Linked DNA regions of Homo sapiens. The protein of the gene in region 1 purifies or fractionates together with the protein of each later gene. This does not show direct contact. Each region holds a gene or a part of one and is shown on either strand. Other genes may lie near its edges. The genes, in order: TTBK1 and NUP205.

Evidence for each region.
Region 2: the proteins of TTBK1 (region 1) and NUP205 purify together in Homo sapiens (affinity purification with mass spectrometry, with the first as the bait; one large-scale study listed by BioGRID). This does not show direct contact.

What each region holds. Positions count from the first base shown.
Region 1 is NC_000006.12:43,256,749-43,260,562, forward strand, and holds part of TTBK1 (tau-tubulin kinase 1), read left to right. Parts: intron 1-1,063; coding exon 1,064-1,218; intron 1,219-2,289; coding exon 2,290-2,521; coding exon of another isoform or gene 2,522-2,782; coding exon 2,783-2,958; intron 2,959-3,814. UniProt on the Homo sapiens protein: Serine/threonine kinase which is able to phosphorylate TAU on serine, threonine and tyrosine residues. Induces aggregation of TAU.
Region 2 is NC_000007.14:135,564,407-135,568,220, reverse strand, and holds part of NUP205 (nuclear pore complex protein Nup205), read right to left. Parts: intron 1-3,814. UniProt on the Homo sapiens protein: Plays a role in the nuclear pore complex (NPC) assembly and/or maintenance. May anchor NUP62 and other nucleoporins, but not NUP153 and TPR, to the NPC.

The DNA.
Region 1 (3,814 bases):
ATAAACAAAAACAATTAATGAAGCCAAATGCTTTTAAGTACTTTACATGAAAACTCTGCGGGAGGCAAGTGGGATGATCATGCCCATTTCATAGATGAGGGAACTGAGGCCCAATATAGTGGTTAGGAGCAGGGCTGGGCTCAGGCACATCTTCTGACTCCGAGTCCAGGGCTCTTTCCAAGCGTCCATCACCACACCCCATGGGACCCACTGACCCTGATCAGAGAATGGGGGAAACATCAGCAGTGTTCTGCCTGGGATCCACTACACGCCAGGCACGATGCTGCATACTGTAGGAGTAGAGACAGCCTGAGGCACACAGGATGCACTCAATTAAGCCGGTCCTCTCAGCAGAGAGAAACTGCCCTGTGCTCTGGAGACAGCCAAGCCAGAAGTGGAGTGTTCTGGGGACCTCAGAGGGTCTATAGCTGTCTGCCACCTCCTGAACCCAGGGCCTGGCAGAGACGCCCCCTGATCTTGGCTTAGCCTCATGGGATCCCCAAAGCCACACAGCTGCGAGCACCCCCCAGGCTGGGGCCCTGTGCTGGCTGCTAGGGATGCAGAGTTGACAGATAGGCATGTGGACAATTCAAACTGATGCACTGTGCCCTGTAGGGCAGCTGTATGGTGGAGAGAATTTACGGTGAAGAGAAGGGAAGCTGCAGAGAGGAGAGGATGAGTGGGAGGGGCGCCCCAGCAGAGGGGCAGTCTGTGCAGAGGCAGCACCCCATGCATGGGTTTGGAAACTCCCAGTGGTTTAGGGTTGCTGACATGGTGGAAATGGCAGAGGAGGTTTGAAGATGGTAACCAGGGGACAGATCTCAGAGGGTTCATGTCCAGTCAGTGGGGCTTAATCCAAGATGATAATTTGCATGTTGATTTGCATATCATGTGCATGTTTTCATTTAAAATCAATGTGCCGTTCTCCTTCCAATGCCCCCTCCAGGCCCATTCCTGTCCTGGAAAGTCCCTGTCTTCCTCCTATGATCCCAGCAACTGCCCCTTCCTCCTGGCTAGCCCCCGGATCACCTCTCTGTCCTCCCATCACCCTCACCCCCTGCAGTTGATCATGTCAGTGTTTGAGAACAGCATGAAGGAGAGGGGCATTGCCGAGAATGAGGCCTTTGACTGGGAGAAGGCAGGCACCGATGCCCTCCTGTCCACGAGCACCTCTACCCCGCCCCAGCAGAACACCCGGCAGACGGCAGCCATGTTTGGGTGAGTCTCAGGAAGGCGAGCCACCAGCCCCTGCCTGGAGCTGTTACCTAAGAGGGCAGGCGGTCCTCTCCTCTCCTCTCTTCCTATCTGGACACACTTGGCTATCTTTCCTATCCTTAGTGGAGTTCTGGGACTTTGGGAAACTCTGCCACATCTCCACCCTCAATCTGAGCATAGAGTGGGCATCTTCCTCATTTGGAGTTTTTAACCTTAGTGGGTCCCTGGGGGAGCAGGGAACCCTAAGCGAAATTACCTGAGCCCCACAGTTTATCTGTTTCTTATCATTCATATGCATGAATTTAACAGCCATGTCCTGAGGCCATACACCTGAAAGTTACAGCTCCTGCCCCCAAAGCACTCTCAGCTGAGTCTGGGATGTTTGAAATCGATGGGTCAGCAATTTCAGAACCATGTGACAGGCACAAAGACAGAGGTGGTCGAGGGAGGAGCTGGAGTTAGAAGGGGCTCTCCACCCAGCCCCAGGAGCAAGCCAAGGAGAGAGGTGGGCAGGGGCTTCAGGGGACACATTTAGGAAGGAGACTTAACAGGAGTTGGTAGCACATTACAGTGCCCAGTTCCATACAGACATTGCTTAAAGAACTCGAAAGTTTAATCATCAAAGAAGATTAAATAAAAAAAAAATTTAAGTGTATATTCAGGGCAACTTCAATCTATGCTCCCAGACTGCAAAATAATAATAAAAGAAAACTAAATTTAAAAGGATCTCCAAAGTGATTCTCCTTTTTAGACCCATTCCTGGGTCTAAAGGAAGCCAGACAGTGAACGCCAATGGAAATCTGGCAGGTCCTTGAACGACAGCAGGATCCACTAAGTCAACAGAGCTAGATGGCTACATCTCCTTGTGGCCCCTGCCAACTTGAGGGTCGTCTGGTCTCAGAGGCTTTGTGGGCCAGCAATGGTGATGGGCCTAGGGACACTCTCACCCCTGACGGGACTGCCTCTGTGCCCGCTCCTGGGGGTGGTCTCCAGGTCTGTGCTGGTAGGAGAGGGCCATGGAAGGAGAGGGCACCCCTGCCAGCCTTGCCCATGGCTCCCTCCTGCCCTCTCCAGGGTGGTCAATGTGACGCCAGTGCCTGGGGACCTGCTCCGGGAGAACACCGAGGATGTGCTACAGGGAGAGCACCTGAGTGACCAGGAGAATGCACCCCCAATTCTGCCCGGGAGGCCCTCTGAGGGGCTGGGCCCCAGTCCCCACCTTGTCCCCCACCCCGGGGGTCCTGAGGCTGAAGTCTGGGAGGAGACAGATGTCAACCGGAACAAACTCCGGATCAACATCGGCAAAGTAACTGCCGCCAGGGCGAAGGGCGTGGGTGGCCTTTTCTCTCACCCCCGATTCCCAGCCTTGTGCCCCTGCCCTGTTCCTCCTAAGCACCCTGTCCCCGGCCATCTGCCTGCTTGCCCTGCCTCTGTTTCCCGGTCCCTCCCCGCACTAGCCTCGCTGTGTCTTCCATCATCATCATCCTCTGTCTCCTTCACCCTGAGGAGACCATCCGCCCACAGCCGCCTCATCAGCCCCAGCTCATGGCACTCCCCTCTCCTGCAGAGCCCCTGTGTGGAGGAGGAACAGAGCCGAGGCATGGGGGTCCCCAGCTCCCCAGTGCGTGCCCCCCCAGACTCCCCCACAACCCCAGTCCGTTCTCTGCGCTACCGGAGGGTGAACAGCCCTGAGTCAGAAAGGCTGTCCACGGCGGACGGGCGAGTGGAGCTACCTGAGAGGAGGTGGGTCTGGGGCCAGGGGCATGGTTGGGGCCCAAGGCCCTCTCCGCCTTCACGTGGCTGGTCTGGAGGAAAAGTTAGATGTGTGGCGGAGGTGGGCAGACCCTGGGAAGTGCTGAGAGGGTTATACTTGGGCCTGGGGTCAGACTCAGTTGGGGCCAGAGACAGGGCCTGGGAGAACCAGTGGGGGATCCAGAGAGGTCCCGGCTCATGCCAGGAAACGTAATTGGGTGAGTGCAGGCTGCAGGAGGGACAGGTGGGGCGCCTGGGCCCAGGAAGGGTGAGGGGCGAGTTGGTTGGTGGGTGTGTGTGCTTCCAGAATCTCTTCTCCTAGAGACTAATTATAGACACTTCAAGTGCAGCTGAGGTAGGCTCTCTTCAGCTTTGGGGGAGGGGGCCTGGGAATTGCTGGAAGAGAGAGCAGGGCAAGTTTTGGGGGTTAGGGCTGAAGGATCTGAAGTCACAGAGGGGAGGGGACCAGCGGGAACCTAGTTGGGGAAAAGGAGCATTGAGAAGCTAGGTGAGCCTTTAGGAGGTGAAGATGGGAGGGTGGGAGAATGGTCTGTTGACCTCGGATGGTGGGTGGACAACAAGGGCCAGGGCCCGGTCCCCATCTGTGCTGGTGGTGGGTGGGACAACATCAGGTGGGGAGGCCCCTGAGAGATGTTTCCATCTTCCCTTGGCCTCTGAGTGGGACTTCACTCCACAGTAGGACTGGGGCCTTCTCTGCACCAGAAAAGGGGTCTCTTCCAAAGACCCAGTCCTGGGGATAGGAGGGGTATCCTTTCTGGCATCCACTCTGTGTGTCTCCTTGTGAGCAACCTCAGTCCTTACACACTCACACAGGTTGGCTTACGTA
Region 2 (3,814 bases), on another chromosome or scaffold:
CAGTCTCACTCACTCTGTCACCCAGGCTGGAGTGCAGTGGCACAATCTCCGCTCACTGCAACTTTCACCTCCTGAGTTCAAGTGATTCTCCTGCCTCAGCTTCCTGAGTAGCTGGGATTACAGGCGTGCCACCACGCCCGTCTAATTTTTGTATTTTTATTAGAGATGGGGCTTCACCATTTGGCCAGGCTGGTCTTGAACTCCTGGCCTCAAGCAATCTGCCCACCTCGGCCTCCCAAAGTGCTGGGATTACTGGCATGAGCCACGGCGCCCGGCCCCTACTAAACTGATTTTAGACTCACCATTTAAAAAATATGACTCTAAAGCCAAAGGTTTCTGTTTGGAAATAAGCAGATAAGGTACTCATATGTGTTTAGACTCTGAAGGAAAAACTGGTCAAAACCAATTACTCAACAGATGAAACTTAGAACTAACTATAGCCTAAACATTAAAGACTGTAAACAGGGTAAACTGTTGAGAAAACCCAAATCCAAATAAAGTTACCAGGATATAAGAACAACATGAAAGATAACTGTAATGTAATTAAATACATTATAACTCAATGAACAACGTCAGATGACGCAATGTAATTTAAAAACATTTTTTTTTTGAGACAGGGTCTCACTTTGTCACCCAGGCTGGAGTACAGTGGTGCCATCTCAGCTCACTGTAGCCTCAACTTCCTGGGGTCAAGAGATACTGCCCCCCTCAGCCTCCTGAATAGCTGGGACTACAGGTATGCAACCACACCCACCTAATTTCTGTTTGTTTGCTTTTTTTTTTTTTTTTTTTTTTGGTATAGACAGGGTTTCACCATGTTGTCCAGGCTTGTCTCAGACTCCTGGACTCAAGCAATCTACCCTGCCCACCTTGGCCTTCCCAAGTGCTGGGATGAAAGGCATGAGCCACTGCACCCAGCCTGAAAAAAAAATTTTTTAAAGGGAGATGTGCAGGGAGAGGACGGACTAAACCAGTGGAGATGGATTATTTATTCATACTTTCATTCACTATCAAATATTTACTGAGGGACCATATATACATATATATATATATATATATATATATATATATATATATATATATATATATATACACACATAGACTGAGCAAGACAGACAGAATCCCAAGCCTCATGGAACTTACAAATTGATAAGACTGACAGACATTAAACAAAGAATTCCAGGCCGGGTGCAGTGGCTCACACCTGTAATCTCAGCACTTTGGGAAGCCGAGGTGGGCCGATCACGAGGTCAGGAGTTCGAGACCAGCCACCTGGCCAATATGGTGAAACCCCATCTCTACTAAAAATACAAAAATTAGCCAGGCATGGTGGTGCGCACCTGTAGTCCCAGCTACTCGGGAGGCTGAGGCAGAAGAATTGCTTGAACCTGGGAGGCAGAGGTTGCAGTGAGCCGAGATTGCGCCACTGCGCTTCAGCCTGGGCAACAGAGCAAGACTCCGTCTCAAAAAACAAAACAAAACGAAAAAACAAATAATTCCAAAGATATCAGTATAATAAAAGATATGATGAAGTACAACGGGCTATGAGAGTACATGAAAGAAAGAGCCTAAACTAATCTGAAGATTAGGGAAGGATGCAAAGCGTCAGGTCTTTGATGTGGGGATGTGAGGAATCTGCATGTCTAGATCTTCCTTACATAGACAGATCATCCAATTCCCTGCTTTGCTTCTCCTGCTTTAGTCCCACACTTTCCAATCTTCTGATTAAAAATATAGCTCGACATATAAATTTCTAGCATGAAGGATGTGTTGACAAGGCAACATGAGTACCTATGCAGACATACTTCCCATTAAAGAGCAATAACTGGCAGACAGGGGTGGTGGCTCATCCGTGTAACCCCAGCACTTCGGGAGGCCAAGGCTAGGAGTTCAAGACCAGTCTGGCCAACATGATGAAACTCCGTCTCTACTAGAAATACAAAAATTAGCCAGGTGCAATGATGCACACCTGTAAATCCAACTACAAGGAGGGTTGAGGCACAAGAATCTCTTGAATCTGGGAGGCAGAGGTTGCAGTGAGCCGAGATCACACCACTGCCATCCAGCCTGGGCAACACAGCAAGCCTCTGTCTCAAAAAACAAATAAATAAACAAATAAAATAAAAAAGAGCAATAACTGGCATACTGGTTTATGTATCTGTCTTTTCTGAATTTGATTAGAGAATAATCAATGAATGGGACCTAATCAACTCTGGATACACTGAAAAAAATCAGATTTCTCTGCCTGCCAAAATGAGGACCTAGATCCTGGTGACTAGATGACTTCCCTCAGGATCATTTTCTTGGCCCTCTCTCTAACTGCAAAGGATAGAGTAGGTTTCAGCCTTGGATTCCAGGGCCATGATGGAATTTTTCCTATTAGTAAATGGCAAAGTTTCCAGTAGCAGATGACAAAATGAAACTGGCATTGTAGGAAAATGGTGTTCTAGTGTGGTTGATGGACTAGAACAGGCAGTGTCAGGAAACAAGGATAAGAGGTAAGTAAGCCACTTATAAGAAAATGGAACCGGGAGGCCAAGGTGGGCAGATCACCTTAGGTCGGGAGTTCGAGACCAGCCTGATCAACATAGAGAAACCCCATCTCTACTAAAAATACAAAATTAGCCAGGCATGGTGGCAGGTGCCTGTAATCCCAGCTACTCGGGAGGCTGAGGCAGGAGAATAGCTTGAACCCTGGGAGTGGCGGTTGCAGTGAGCCGAGATCACACCATTGCACTCCAGCCTGGGCAACAATAGCGAAACTCCATCTCAAAAAAAAAAAAATAAGAAAATGGAACCTAAACTAGGATGAGGGCAGTACAGGAGGAAGAAAAGGTCTGTTAGTAACAGAAAGGACTCAGAATTGGTCATCAAATGGCACATGGTATAAAGGGAAGGTATTAATGATGACTCCTATGCAAATCTGAAATATACCTTACCACAGACATTTCAGAAATCTGATAAAGTGCTGACAAAAGTTAATTTTCTCTCCCTCATTTTAAATATTAATATACAGTAGGACCTCTGAAAAACCAATAAATTTCCTTGTACTATACATATTTAGTGTAATAAGCTCAGTGAATGGTAGAGAAAAATCCAATTTTTCCCCCAATAATGGTAGGCATCCAATTAAAGATCAAAACTCTACAATAGGCCGGCTGCAGTGGCTCACACTTGTAATGCCAGTACTTTGGGAGGCCAAGGCGGGCAGATCACTTGAGGTCAGGAGTTCGAGACCAGCCTGGCCAAAATGTCAAAACCCTGTCTCTACAAAAAATTTTTAAAAAGTAGCCAGGCATGGTGGCGTGCACCTGTAATCCCAGCTACTCAGGAGGCTGAGGTGGGAGAATCGCTTGAACCTGGAGGCAGAGGTTGCAGTGAGCCAAGAGCGCACCACTGCACTCCAGTCTGGAAGACAGAGTGAGACTCCATCTCAAAAAACAAACAAACAAAAAAACTCAACAATAAAAAAACAGGTTCACTGGCCTACTTAGTTCGTCATTAATATCAACATAGCATCAAAGGGCCAGGCAAGGTGGCTCGCACCTGTAATCCTAGCACTTTGAGAGGCTGAGGTAGGCCTCCCAAGCAAGGTTCAAGGAGCTTAAGTGCAGGAGTTCAAGACCAGCCTGGGTCACATGGCAAAACCCTGTCTCTATTTAAAAAAAAAACAGGCCGGGCGTGGTGACTCATGCCTGTAATCCAGCACTTTGGGAGGCCGAGGTGGGCAGATCACAAGGTCAGGAGTTCAAGACCAGCATGGCCAACATGGTGAAACCCTGTCTCTACTAAACACACACAAAAAAATTAGCTG